Linked DNA regions of Homo sapiens. The protein of the gene in region 2 interacts with the protein of the main gene of each other region in a pairwise test. Each region holds a gene or a part of one and is shown on either strand. Other genes may lie near its edges.

Region 1 (7,024 bases), on a different chromosome or scaffold from region 2:
GCCCCCCAACACCCCAGACTCTGCTGAATAGCCAGCCGTCCCCACTGCTGTCCGCATCTAGACCCCTACGTCCCAGCTCTTCGTGGGTAGCAGGGGCAGATGCCCATCCATCTCCCAGGTGGGGGTGCCTGCTCAGGTGCCACACCACCAGGTACTGGTGCCAGAATTGGACCCAGCTGTTCCTCTGAGCCCATCTGGCTATACCAAGTTCATTTCTATGGCTGAGTTACTTACATCCTCACAAGCTGAGGCTGGCAGGCAGACTCAAGGGCTCCAACCAAGCCTTCAAATTCAGCTGAGGCTCAGTTGCTAGGGGAAGAGGGGAGTCTTCTGAGCTAGAACCTGCCCTTTAAGTGGGCAGGATGGAGGGCCATGATTAGAGTGGGAGAGGCCTTTCGGAATCCCAGGCCTGATGGTGATAGCCCCATGCTGTGTCAAGTGTGTCTAGGGATTCAGTGCCCAAGGTCCATATGATATGGGGCAGTTGGGGGTAGGATGCATTGCAAACTGACATGATTAGAGGGAATACTGTATGTCAGGGATGGTCATCCCATCTGAACCAGTCACTAAAGTTTTGGAGATTCTTCCTATGGGAATAATTTTAAATGGAGAAAAAGGAAAGTGCTTGATACATTAAAATAAAATGTTTAAAAAAAGAAGGCAAAATGACAAGGGGATCTCTGGTCACTGCAGCCATCTTTAGATGACAGCCACAGAAGTCTTGAAGGAAATGCCCTAAGATGTACCCAGAGGCCCAGCGCAGCGGTGGGAGCAGCGGTCCAGACTCCCCGCGCTGGTTGTGATAAGGTTTCTGTGACGGGCTCTCACTTCCTTCCAGGTTGAATATTGACTTTTTAAAGCTCATTGCAGAAAGTGAACAGCAGGGATGGTGTGGGAACAACACCTAAAACCCGCCCCAAGGGCAGGCCTGGGAGACCCTCCTTGAGGATAGAAAGGCAAGAGTGGGGATGCTGCCAGCAGACTAGTGCCCCCAGGCCTCTGCCTGCCACCCACCTGCTTGATGAGCATGTAGGTCTCCGACATGATCCTCTCCACACGGCCCAGGTCATAGGCCACACCCTTCTGGCCCTGCTGCCACACACGGTAGGCATCCAACAGAAGTGTCTTGCCTGACTCTGTGTCCTCCAGGAGCTTCCTCTTGCGGCTGAGCCGGGAGAGCGGCTCCTCCGGGTGGCCCCCTGCCCTGGTCCCTGTGGTGGTGGCGGGGGCGGGGGCGGGGGCTGGCTGGGCTGGGGTGAGCGGGGTGGGCTGCTGCCGGGCACTGATGCTCAGCTCCTCCAGGGACAGCTCAGTGGGCCGGCTCTCGGGGCCCCGGTCCCTTGCGGGGCGACCTGGCAGCAGGGGTGGTGTCCGCTCCAAGTCTGAGTGGCAAACAGTGGCCTCACTCGTGTCCATGGGCTCAGTGGGCCCTGCCCGTGGGCTCTCTTTATCCTTCCGCTCCCCGCTTTGGTCTGCACTGTCTCCTGCATCCATGGCCACAGGCCGGTGGTTGAGGAGGCCCACTTTGCCTCCTGGCTCGGGCCCTGGCCCTGAGCCATCAGCCAGAGGGGGCTTCTTCGGCTGGGGGAGGCCCTCCTGGCCATCCTCAGGACTGGCCTTGTGTGAGACATCGGTGGTCATCCTGGCTCCGGGGAGGCCACAGACCTTGGGCCCTGGGCGTTCTGACCCCTACAAAGAAACCAAAGGTAAGAAGCTGTGTCGCTGGTGTCTCCACTGCAATGAGTCACCTCTGGGGGCTGGTGAGCCCAACCTGGGCCTCTCCCACCTGACATCTGTGTGGCTCCGGACATCTGCCAGCTGGCCAGGGCTGTGTTTCAGTTATCAGAGAAGGACACTGGGCCCAGAGACCTGCCTGAGAAAGGCCTTCCCTCCTCTGCACCTCTGGCTACCCCACCACACTCTTCCAGGTAGCAAGGGGCTGACGGGACTCTGGAGGTGGCACTGCTCCTGAATAACAGGCCTGGGCTGAGCTGGGGCAGCATTGCCCAGCTCCCCTTTGACTCCATGACGTGAACTCCGGGCAGCTCTGGGCATTTTATGGGAGGGGACCTGCCCAGGGCCACCAAGCATGTTTGCTGCAGAGCCAAGTCTTCCTGGCCCTTAATGCACGAGGCCTGGGGTTGGGGGCTGGCAAGGACTCCTCCCCAACAGCCTCAAGTTGATGCCCTCTACCAAGCCACAGCCAGCCCTACCAGGCATAAGCTTTGGAGGCAGTCCTGGCTCAACTCCCAACAGCCCCACCTCGTAGGCTGGCTGCTTAACCTCCCTGGCCTCCTCCAGGTGCTCAGCTGTGAGAAGGAGGTACTGCTGCACCTGCCTCAAGGCTGAAAAGGGACGATGCACACACATGGTGTTCTCATAGGCCTTGGTCAGCCTGCCAGGGAGAGGGCTTGGGACCCCGCCCTGGGTGGTGCAGCCCTTGGGGAGCTCAGTTTCATGGAGTCACTATGGCTCTTACTAATCACCAAGTGCATCCATGACTCACTGAATTCATGTGCATTCATTACCACGGCTGACCTTCCCTGCCTAGGAAGACAGGATGGGTGCTACCTCACAGATGGGGACCCTTAGGCACATCCTGCCTAAGGGTATGCAAATAGAGGGATCGGGCCCACCACCTGGGAAGGGCTTGGAAGCGTGTTCATGGGCCGTGGAGGAGAGGAGGACACAGGTGGCATACCTCTGCGAGCTCGCTCAGCGTGTCTTCGAGCACCTTCACAGTGAGGATGAAGGCCCGCTGCGCCAGGACCTGGCGGTCAGCATCTCGCAGATACTTCCTGCGGTCATACAGGGGTAGTCAGAGAGGACAGGAGGGCATCTGACACCACATGGCACTGCTGGATGGTGGCCACTGCCCATCCCTGCCTTGAGGATGCCTGTTTGTTCCTCAGTGTTCCACCTAACCACCTGTTTGGGGCTGCTCCCCTAGAAGCTTCCCCTGAGCTCCCTCTATCCAGAGCCAGTAGGCCTCTGACCCGGCACCAGCCTGTTGCCCTTAGGCCCTCTGCAGTGGGCCCACCCTGTGTGCTGTGCTCAGCAGCCTATAGCTGCTCCCTCAGGTCTGGCTCCAGGGTGCCCCAGGCCCCAGCTGGAGGCCCCTGAACTCCTGGCACATCGCCTGGCAAGTGGTAGGTGAGTGAGACAGCCAGAGGGTGAGACAGTGCAGGCATGGGAGGAGGCCCAGTCCAGCTGACGGAGTGAGGCCTCCAGGCCAGGCCCATCTACATCTGAGCTGCGTCTCTTCCAGGATCCCCCCAACACCCCCTGTAAATGGCAGCTGTAACAGATGGCTCTGTTATCTGTCCTGCCCTTTCTGGCGGAGAGCTCCCTGTTTACCACTGAGGCCCAGGCACCCCTGTCGCTCACCCCACTGTTACTGGCCTTTGTCTGGGGAACCACAGCTATCTTCTGAACATCTGTTTTCCCTACAACCTGACAGCACCCCGAGAGCCCTGAGTTGGGGGAAGCAGGAGGAAAGGAAAGGCTGGGTAGTCCAGAGTCTCAACGTGGAACCAGGATCAGTGGGGACAGGCTGTGTCTGCCCTAGGGTGCCTGGGGGTGGGAAGTGTTGTTTAGGTTCTAGACACTGGGACAGAGAGGCCCCCAAGGAGAATGAAGAGCTGGTCCAGGCTCCCAGCCAGTGGTCCTCACAGCTGGGCCAGAGCAGTGGAGAGGCTTCCTGGGGTGTGTGTGCCCCTGACCCACACAGCATGCCAGGCTGTGTCCAGGGTGGCTGCACTCACTTGCCCTGGTCTGGGGTCCGCTGAAGCATGGAGGACACCTTCAGCAGGGTGCTGTGGTCCCGCAGCTGGGCCAGCACCTTGAGCAGCAGCACGATGGAGCGGTTCATGTGCCAGGCAAAGCTGCCCGGCCGGTCAATCTCGTCCACGGGGATCCGCCAGATGCCCTGTGGGATGGATGGCACAGGTGTGTGAGGGGGGTGGTTGTGGCAGGAGCCTCGGGGACACCCTGTCTGGTATCCCCTGGAAACTGCCACAGTGCCAAAGGGGACACTGCCCAGCCAGGGGCTTCTTGGACCCCTCTCACTGTCCCAAGGAGACAGAAGTGTATCCCCACCCCCTTCCTTCTCATGAGTGGCAGCAAATGACAGACAGACCCACTGCTCTGCAGCCTCCTCTTTTGTATGGCTGCATCTCATATGTTTGCTGGACCTGTCCCCTATGGGATGCACTCAGGTGGGGCCTGATCAAACGTGAGGACAGACAGTGAGAGGCCCAGTGTGTACACCTCCCTGCACAGGTGCTTACCCAGCCACCAGACCATTTGTTAGAGGTGGAACTGCTGAGTCAAAGCAGGCTGCAGGGAAGCTCTGGCTAGGCTCTGCCCTCACCCACTCTCTCCAGCAGTGCCCAGAGAATCATCTGCAGCTCCTGGGATGCCTGGGGTCCCCCTCCCTCTTCCCACTTCTTGCCATCCTACCCCACTCCTCTTTGAAGGCTTAACCAGGGCAAAGTTGACTTTGGGGAGCACCCCCCATTATCTCCCTTGGTCCTTGCTTTACCTGCTGCAGCACTGGGCACCCCCTACCTATCACTAGCTCCAGGGCCTGGTTCCCTGCAGTGTCCTAGTGACCAGCATGGCATCTGACACCTACTCGGGGTCCAGGCAGGGTGTGGGGAAAGCAGGGAGTGAGTGATGAGGAAACAGGCATTAAGGAGGCCCATCTCTGGGGTGGGACCTCAGGGGCCTGGAATAAGTGAACTGGCTCCTAGATGGGTCCCTGCAGCCAACACGCTGAAGAAACTGCTGCCCAGAATGGACCAAGGTTATGAGTGACATTGCTTTCTCCTTGGCATGGGGCCTGGCCCACATCATGCTGCAGTATAGGATTCTGGGGACTTGGGCCCCCAGCTACAGGGACCACTGCAGGATGTCTAGGTGGTACCCCTCTCAGGGCCCTGTCCCTGTGGGTCCTTGCTGATTATCCACAGTATCTGTACACAGGTGTGGGCCCACCCTGCTCTAGCAGCCCTGGGAGGAAAGCCAGGGCACCTCCAGCCCTGAGCTGTTAAGGCCTGAGAGGAGTTTAAAACTCGCAGCCTTGAGACCCTGTGGCCTCTACACTGGCTCCTGTTGTGACATGGAGGGTCCACCTGCAGGCTGGGGGACTATGTGGAGGCCAGCAGCCACCTTCTACTTCCTGGCAGTGCCTGAAAAGGACAAAACCAGGGTACTGAGGCTATCCACATCCAGGGCAGCAAACATCAATGCTGCATCTTCCTACCATGCAGATGTGGATCCTGAAGCAGCTTATGAAAAGACACCTGCTTTCCAACAGACAGGGTCTATCTACAGTAGGCACCAGAATGGGCAGACACTGTCTCCTGGGTCTCCATCCGCTGTGCTGCAGCAGTACGTCCCGCTGAAGACCCTCCCATCCCTGCACCTCCCAGGGCACATAGACACCAACAGACACACCCGTGAGGACGGGTCTAGTTTGCATCACACACACCAGCACAGTTTGGATCCCTATCTCCTTTCCGTTTCCTTTTGTAACATAACACTGCTGATTTCAGAAAGGATGGAAGACCAAACAAATCAGGCAGTGAGTCCATGGAAAATCAGAAGGGAACCATAGACACCGCCGCCCGCTTGGCCACCCCCATGCTATTGTGACTCTCAAAACTTCCCCAGCCAGCCCTGAGAGGCTTGAAAGGCAGCATTTTACATTTGCATGTGCTCTGGTTTCATTCTGGCATCTTGCTTGGCCTTTTTCTGGTAACAGTGTGCTGAAGGGCACGTTTCCCGGGCAGGGTCAGGCCAGCTAGTGTGCCCTTGTTCATCTCTTTACTGTATCTTCATTCACATGCCCCAGTATGGGGGCTCCTATGTTTATTTACCTTGCACTGGGCACTATTCCCAGAAGCCCCTTCTGTTGTGGGCTTGTCCTTTCCCTGCCCCCAGGATTGGCCCCCTTGCCTGCTCGGCCAGGCCTAAGACCCACCACCAGCCATGGGAATTCAGCCAGCAGATGGGCCCCAGGATCCCAGTCAGGCTTCCCCTCCTAATGAGAGCCTTTAGGAATAACCCCTCTTCTCTGTGGCCTGGGGCGGTGTGCAGATGGACATACCTCCCGAACGGTGAGGGGACTTCCTATGGCCATGAGGCTGGCCTCCAGAGAAAGCTGGTCTGAAGAGTGAAGCCACCAGGCAGAGTCACGAGCCAGCAGGGTGGTAGCAAGCCAACTGGCTTTCTGCCTACACCAGGTGGAGCTGGGCTTCTGTGTTTGCAGCAAGAGACCCATGAGAAGGATGATACTGGCAGCCCCAGGATGACCTGGACACAGCGGTTCCCCACAGAGGGGCAGTAGCCACAGCAGCCCTCTCCCTCCACTGTCCCTCTAACACCGGGCCTGTGGAGGGCTATGAAGCTCCTAGAGAACCAAGGTGCTGAGGAGGGTCTCCTGGAGTGGGACAGGTACAAGGGACAGCCCCTGCTTCACCTGGTTTTCCTCACCACGGCCCACACAGGAGGAAGGGGCATGGCCAGGTTCCAACTGCCACAGCAGAAGCCCCACTGCATTCAGCCCAGGGACTCACGTTCGGGCCTCAGGGAGGGTGTGGAGAATGTGCCAGGGGTGAGCTTGGATAAAGCTAAGTCAGGGCCAGAAAAGAAGGGCATAGGCAGCAGTGACCAAGAGGCCTGGCTGAGGGCAGGTGGAGGGAGCCAGCACCAGGCCAACACCCCCACGGCATCTGAGGGAAAGGCAGAGGCAGGATCATAGATGGGCAGGGGCCATAAGTAGCAGCTGAGAGAAGCAGGGTCGCCGCGAGGAGGGTCTCCTCTGGCCCTCTCCTAGTTCTCCCTCAGCCCTGGGTCCCGCTGCTCTGGCCGTACCCCTTGCCTCGCCTCTCCCAGTTCCACAGGCACACTTGCTGTCTTCAGATTTGCCCCACTTGATTCCTGGGCCCTGGTGTCACCAGGGCTGGGTTCCCTGATGGCCACAGTGGCTGGGATAATGCTTGCTTATAGAGTTGAGGGC
Region 2 (7,724 bases):
GCAGAAGAATCGCTTGAACCTGGGAGGTGGAGGTTGCAGTGAGCCGAGATTGTGCCACTGCACTCCAGCCTGGGCAACAGAGTGAGACTCTGTCTCAAAAAAAAAAAAAAAAAAAAAATTAGCTGGGTGTGCTGGTGTGAGCGCGTATTCCTAGCTCCTCAGGAGGCTGAGGCAGGAGGATCACTTGAGCCCAGGAGGCAGAGGTTGCAGTGAGCTGAGATCACACCACTTTACTCTAGCCTGGGCAACAGAGCAAGATGCTGTCTCAAAAACAAAGAAAGAAAGAAAGAAAGAAAGAAACCTCTTCCAGAAGGCCAAACACCCAACATGTCTACACTCACTGCACCCAAGTTGGGGTGAGCAAATGTTTTAAATTCCCCTTCTCTTCTTAATTTGCATTTTCCAGATGTCCACCTGGTTGGGTCATAGTTTAACCAAATAAATCATTCGTTGGGATGGGAAAGCCAAGAGTGGGTTCAGCTTGCTCCGCTCACAGGAGCTGCCACAAAGTTCAGAGAGGGGCAGCCACCTGTTGGGGGGTCACACAGAGAGGAGGGAGAGGAAGCTGGGCCTCGTGACCCCAGCCTCTGTTCTCTTGGGGGACTGAGGCATGGCCTTGAGCTCCATCCTTTTTTGAGGGGCCTAGTGTTACTACCTGGCCTCAGCCTTCCCTCCTGCAAACCAGCTTCCTGCTCTCTAAGATGACATCCCAAGATCCTAACTGTCCTGAAATTCTGTTTGCTGGAGGCCAAGCTTCCCCCTTTACTGAACAACAGGAAGGGGACATGAGGGAACAAGCCTGCCTTTTTAGAAAGCCCTTTTCATCTCTGGAAATCAGTCCTCACACACTGGTTCTCCGAAGTCGAAATACTTTTTTGTATCCAGTTTCCTTCACTCCAAGAGTCTGAGAGTTCTTGTCCCGAATGCCCAAGGTCCAGGGGCCCTGCCCTTCCCCAGGGATGATTCTTGGCCAGGCTAGCCTGAGGCCTTGATTATTGTTTTGTTTCTTTCTTCTTTTTTTTTTTTTTTTTTTTTTGAGATGGAGTTTCACTCTTGTTGCCCAGGCTGGAGTGCAATGACACGATCTTCGCTCACCACAACCTCCGCCTCCTGGGTTCAAGCGATTCTCCTGCCTCAGCCTCCTGAGTCGCTGGGATTACAAGCATGTACCATCATGGCCGGCTAATTTTGTATTTTTAGTAGAGATGGGGTTTCTCCATGTTGGTCAGGCTGGTCTCGAACTCCTGACCTCAGGTGATCCGCCCGCCTCAGCCTCCCAAAGTGCTTGGATTACAGGTGTGAGCCACCGCGCCTGGCCATTTTTTTGTTTCTTTTCTTTCTTTTTGTTTTTCTTTTAGAGACAGGATCTTGCTCTGTCACCCAGGCTGCAGTGCAGTAGCTCAGTCATAGCTCACTGCAGACTCGAACTCCTCGGATCAAGTGATCCTCCTGCCTCAGCCTCCCGAGTAGCTGGGACTATACACATAAGCCACCACACCTGCCTAATTAAAAAAACAATTTTTTTTGGCCAGATGCGGTGGCTTACTCTTGTAATCCTAGCACTTTGGGAGGCTGAGGCAGGCAGATCACATGAGACCAGCCTGGCAAACATGGTGAAACAACGTCTCTACAAAAAATGCAAAAATTAGCTGGTCATGGTGGCACACGCTTGTAGTCCCAGATACTCGGGAGGCTGAGGCAGAAAATCAATCACTTGAACCTGGGAGGCAGAGGTTGCAGTGAGCCAAGATTGAGCCACTGCGCTCCAGCCTGGGTGACAGAGTGAGACTCTGTCTCAAAAAAAATTTTTTTTTAAAGCCAGGTGCAGGGGCTCACGCCTGTAATCCCAGCACTTTGGGAGGTTGAGGCAGGTGAATCATTTGAGGTCTGGAGTTCAAGACCAGCCTGGCCAACATGGTGAAAGCCCATCTCTACTAAAAATACAAAAACTAGCCAGGCGGTAGTGGCACGCGCCTGTAATCCCAGCTACTTAGAAGGCTGAGGGAGGAGAATTGTTTGAGCCTGGGAGCTGGAGGTTGCAGTGAACAAAGATCACCACTGTACTCCAGCCTGGGCGACAGGATGAGACCCTGTCTCAAAAAAAAAACAAAGAAAGAAAAGAAAAGAAAAAGAAAATGGGGGTCTCACTATGTTGCCCAGGCTGGTCTCAAACTACTGGGCTCAAGTGATCCTCCTGCCTCAGCCTCCAAAGTGCTGGGATTACAGGCATGAGCCACAGTGCCCGGCCAGCTATTTCTGACTAATTGGGTCTGCAACTAGGGGTTAGGGTGGCCAAGGACACAGGTCACCCATATCTGCAGCCCTGGACCCCAAAAGAGATAGGGAGGGAGGACTGTGACCGTGAAAGTAATGCTGCCACCACCTTGTCATGTGCTAACAACCACACGGGGATGTGACTCTTGTTCCTGTACCCATTGAGGCAAAGGGAGGAGAGTTGGCCCCGGCAGCTGTTGCTCCCCCGTTCCAAGGTTTTGTGCCTACCATCCTGCTGTGACAAACGAGTGTACACCCACAGCAAGAAGGCATAGGGTTGTGCACAGGGGATGCGCTAATGCTAAAGGAGTGCACACCAGGAGAGAGGGACATCACATGCCACATCACAGAGCTCACAGACACATAATAGGGCCTCACAGCACCATGATTTTGGACACACAGCTAACTCTCCAACTCCCCAACTCACACCAAATCTCAGACGCAGAGCCCTTGGACACACAACTTCCAGACCCACACCCTTCAGACACACACCCCTTGGAGACACAACCCCCTCCTGCCACAACCTCGGGGACTCACCACCCCACGACACACACCCCTTTAGACACACACCCCACCCTGGGACGCCCAGCAGTACACCCGGACCTCCAAAACCCACCCAGCCCGCAGAAGCCGTTCAGAGGACACCACAGGAGTCTCAACCCGATATGACACGCACCTGCTCGGCCTGGGCCCTGGGACGCTGGGCGCACGGACCCGCGGCGGCTGCACGAAGATCAGGGGCCCGCGGCCGCAGGTGCCTTGGGAGCGGGCGGTCCTGCCCCCGGGAGCTGATTGGGCGGGACGGGCTTATTTGCATACAGGGCGTCACCCTGGAGGCGGCGATGGGCGTGCACTTGGGCGTGGCCCCGACCCGGGAGTTCATGGGCCTGGGACTCAGACGCGAAAGGATGCTGGGGCGCCATGGGTGGGGGCGCGGATAAGGAAGAAGCAGAACGGAGGGAGGGGGCTGGATCAGACTGGCCAGGCTTTCCCCGCCCTCACTGGGCGCCCTTGACCTTACTGCCGACCCCTGACCCTACTGTGACCCTAACCCTAATTCTAAACCTTTTCCTAACTCGGCCCAACTTGCCTGGATTGATTCCATCCTGAGTGAAATAGACTCCGATCCCGGACCCCGTCGCCCCGAGGAACCAAGCCCTTCTCGCAGGCAACGCTGACCCTCGCGCTCGCTAGAATGGAAAGACTGCAAGACGGGGCTCTCGGGTGGCCTGTGTGGCCTCACTCAACTGTGCCTCCTGGGGCCAGATATGTGCTCCCACAGGGAGTGACAGACCCTCCGCAGCTACTGGTCCCTCAAGCCCGCACCGCCTGCCCCTCCACAGTCCAAGACAACCACACTGCTTCCACCAACCACTTCCCTCTCCTTACCTCTCCCCGCTAAAGGCTGTTTTCTAAACTTCAAAGGTCAGCTGTGAGGGGCCTTCCAGGATTGGACCCCAGCCCAGAACTCTAAATCCACCCCTTCCCCTGGGATCCCAGCACAGGCCAGACCCACAGGAAGATCAGAGCAGGGGTTGGTGAATGTATCAATGTGAAAAGAATTACAGGATAAAGATGGCTCTGGGATGGGCACTTCTGGAGAAGCCCCCGGCCCGTCTGGGGCAGGCAGGGGATCCATGCACTCCCCTAACCCTGTGGGGTCAGGCTTGGGCCAGAGGAGGGATGGGAGGCTGGGACAGGCCAGAATTGGGGCAAGGGCTGTGCCAGAGGAGTCAGGGAGGGTTTCTCAGAAGAGAGGGCATTTGTGCTGGGCTTTCAAGTATGTGTAGGAGTTTGCCACTAGGAGAAAGGTTTTTCTTGTTTTTTTCTTCAAGGCAGGATCTCACTGTGTTGCCCAGGCTGGAGTGCAGTGGCATGATCATAGCTCACTGCAGCCTCGACCTCCTAGGCTCAAGCAATCCTCCCAACTTAGCCTCCCCAGCAGCTGGGACTACAGGCAGGCCACCACCAGGTCCAGCTAATTTTGTTTTTTTTAAGAGAGGATGTCTCACTATGTTGCCCAGGCTGGTCCCAAACTCCTGGGCTTAAGAGATCCTTCCTCCTCGGCCTCCCAAGGTGCTGAGATTACAGGTGTGAGCCACTACACAAGACCCGAGAAGGGCTTTTTCAAGAGGGAAAAGCACTTGCAAAAGTGCAGAGGAAGAGCATAGAACATTCTCTGGCCGGGGAAGATGAGGAAGGTGAAGCCAGTATAGCGGGCAGGGGGTGAAGAGGAGGGGCAGATACAGGTGGAGAGCAATGGGGCTGCAAAGCTGCCTGGTGTCCATCTCCTCCAGAGAAGAGAGGGGCTGGTCCCCCAAACTCAGGGGGAGGCATGTGGCAGATGCTGGAGTGTGGGGGACACTGAGACAGGGAACAGGGGGCCTGGGAGGCTTGTGTCTCTCCCCACACCTCAGTTTACCCGTCTGTGACATGGGCAGTGTGGGCCTCTAGTCTGAGCACAACTTTCTCTTTGGACATGAAAACTATAGAGTTCATACTGTGTCATCAGTGGGTCCCTCCTGTCCCCATCCAGTGCCCAGTGCCATACACTGGGGTGCCCCAAGGACATGCCAGGGCCTGGGCCAGGCTGGGGGCTTCTGCCTCCACTCCATGGTGCAGAACAAGGCTTGGGGAGTGTGGAGGTGGCTGGGGAGCCCTGGGCCCCCGGAGGGCTGCTCTGTTTACCGGAGGCCACCCGCCCACCTCTGATGCAACAGGCAGGCTCTGGTTACGTGAGGCCGGCAGCTGGGCCAGCTCTGGGGGAAGGGCTAGCCCAGCAGAGCGAAGCTGGCTGGGGCTGGCCCTTATGCACCCCAACTCCCCAGCCCCCTCCTTCTGGTGGGCACCATCTTGTTATTCATGGTCTGTCCCGTGTCCTTTTGCCTCTGTTCCTATCCTATACCTTCCCCAACCACTAATTGTGTCCCCTAGCAGGGCCACCAAGAGTCTTAACCTCATTCTTCTCAGATGAAGGGACACCCTTAGTTGCTAGAGTAAGAGGTTGGAAGGTAGAAGGGAAGGTTGTGAGGAGGAAGGGATAGAAGGGTCCAGAGTGGGTGGTGAGGGAGAAGAGTGACCTGGGAAGCAGGTCTGGGAGATGGGGGAGGTGGTGGGTGGGGGATGGAGGAGAAGGCTAGGGTGGGAGGCTGGGGGAGGTGGAGAAGCTGCCCCCGCTGTCTCCCTCCTCCAGATTCTCTCCCCTCTCCCAGGAGAAGGCTTTGAAGGACCTTCCATGATAAGGATGTGTGACCCAGTAGGTAGGGAGGGCCCTGAGGTTAAAGAACCCTGAGTCCCCATCCCAGCTGTGCCGCCCACTCACTGTGTGACCTCAGGATGGTCACTGCACCCCTTGGGGCCTCTTTGCTCATATGAGAAGTGTGGATAGGCTGGGCGCGGTGGCTCACGCCTGTAATCCCAGCACTTTGGGAGGCCGAGGTGGGTGGATCCCGAGGTCAGGAGATCGAGACCATCCTCACTAACACGGTGAAACCCCGTCTCTACTGAAAATACAAAAAATTAGCCAGGCGTGGTGGCAGGCGCCTGTAGTCCCAGCTACTCGGGAGGCTGAGGCAGGAGAATGGCGTGAACCTGGGAGGCGGAGCTTGCAGTGAGCCAAGATCGTGCCACTGCACTCCAACCTGGGCGACAGAGCGAGACTCTGTCTCGAAAAAAAAAAGAAAAAAAAAAAAGCCAGGCATGGTGGCACACACCTGTAATCCCAGCTACTCAGGAGGCTGAGGCAGGAGAATTGCTTGAACCCGGGAGGTGGAGGTTGCAGTGAGCCAAGATCACGCCACTGTACTCCAGCCTGGGTGACAAGAGCAAGACTCTGTCTCAAAAAAGAAAAAAAAAAAAAAAAAAAGAAGAAGTGGGGATAATAGGAGCCCTTAAGGCCCACCTCCAATGTTCCCTCCTCCAAAAGCCTTCCTATCCTCTTACCACTTAGGATCCTTCCACCTCCCCACCCTTCCTTCCAGCTTAGCACTGATCCAGGGGGCGGGGTAGAGTATGTGGCTGGTTCTGTGTCCCCCAGCCTGGGGGTTCCTTGGGCCCGGGCCCAGTGCATGGTGGCACCAAAGGGGTGTCTCCACGGGTTTCTTTCTTTTCATTTTTTAGAGACAGAGTTGCTCTGTTGCCCAGGCTGGAGTGCAGTGGTACAATCATGGCTCACTGCAGCCTTGAACTCCTGGGCTCAAGTGATCCTCTCGCTTCCATCTACCAAGTAGCTGGGACTATAGGAATGCACTACCACACCTGGCTAATTTTTAAATTTTTTTTTGAGGTGCACTGGGTGTCTCGCTTGTTGCCCAGGCTGGTCTCGAACTCCTGGGCTTAAGCGATCCTCCTGCCTTGGCCTCCAAAAGAGCTAGGATTATGGATATGAGCCATTGCGCACAGCCTCCATGGGTTTCTTGAAGAACTGGAGAATCTCAAAGAAGGTCTAAGCAGTGAAAGGGAGTGGGGGATAAGCCTGGGGCACCCAGAAGCCTTGTTCAGGGATACTGTAGGGAAAAGAAAAAAAAAAAAAAAGGCTTTCCAGGGGCCTGAGTGTGCAGGACTCTCCGGGAACCCAGAGGAGTAGGTCTGAAATAAAAACCAGGACTCACACCAATGGCTAAGGACAAAAACCCAGCGGAAGTCTGATTCTTGTCCTGACCACTGTGGACGGAGCAGGGGGCAGGTCGCTGCCCTGTATGGGTCTCCTTTTACCCCATCTGCAGATCAGGGTTGGGATCCTTTCTGGGTGATCTCCAGCCTCGTGAGCACTATGCTTCTGTTTGGATGCCCCATGGCACGGAGAGCTCACTGTCTCTCTTCTAGCTGCCTATCTCTGGAGTTCTGCCGGGAGTTAAATTTTTTTTTTTTTTTTTTTTGAGACGGAGTCTGGCTCTGTCGCCAGGCTGGAGTGCAGTGGCGCAATCTCGGCTCACTGCAATCTCCACCTCCCGGGTTCAAGTCATTCTGCTGCCTCAGCCTCCCGAGTAGCTAGGATTACAGGTGCTCACCACAGCCAGCTAATTTTTGTATTTTTAGTAGAGATGGGGTTTCACCATGTTGGCCACGACGGTCTCAATCTCCTGACCTCGTAATCCACCCGCCTCGGGCTCCCAAAGTGCTGGGATTACAGGCGTGACCCACCATGCCCAGCTGGGTGTTTTTTGAAATGGAGTCTACCTCTGTCGCCCACGCTGGAGTGCAGTGGCGTGATCTCGGCTCACTGCAACCTCCACCTCCCGGGCTCAAGCGATTCTCCTGCCTCAGCCTCCAGAGTAGCTGGGGATTACAGGCATGCACCACACCCAGCTAATTTTTGTATTTTCAGTAGAGACGAGGTTTCATCATGTTGGCCAGGCTGGTCTCCAACTCCTGACGTCAAGTGATCCGCCCACCTCGGCCTCCGAAAGCGCTGGGATTACAGGTGTGAGCCCCCGCGCCTGGCCAGTAAA

Evidence for each region. Proteins that work in one complex are often made in the same cells at the same time.
Region 1: the proteins of MEF2B (region 2) and CABIN1 interact in binary tests that used the Homo sapiens proteins (3 or more experiments, as listed by UniProt).

Annotation. Positions count from the first base shown.
Region 1 is NC_000022.11:24,161,304-24,168,327, reverse strand, and holds part of CABIN1 (calcineurin-binding protein cabin-1), read right to left. Parts: intron 3,929-7,024; coding exon 3,765-3,928; intron 2,799-3,764; coding exon 2,702-2,798; intron 1,690-2,701; coding exon 1,015-1,689; intron 1-1,014. UniProt on the Homo sapiens protein: May be required for replication-independent chromatin assembly. May serve as a negative regulator of T-cell receptor (TCR) signaling via inhibition of calcineurin. Inhibition of activated calcineurin is dependent on both PKC and calcium signals.
Region 2 is NC_000019.10:19,167,255-19,174,978, forward strand, and holds the start of MEF2B (myocyte-specific enhancer factor 2B), read right to left. Parts: upstream 3,010-7,724; 5' UTR 2,951-3,009; intron 1-2,950. UniProt on the Homo sapiens protein: Transcriptional activator which binds specifically to the MEF2 element, 5'-YTA[AT](4)TAR-3', found in numerous muscle-specific genes. Activates transcription via this element. May be involved in muscle-specific and/or growth factor-related transcription.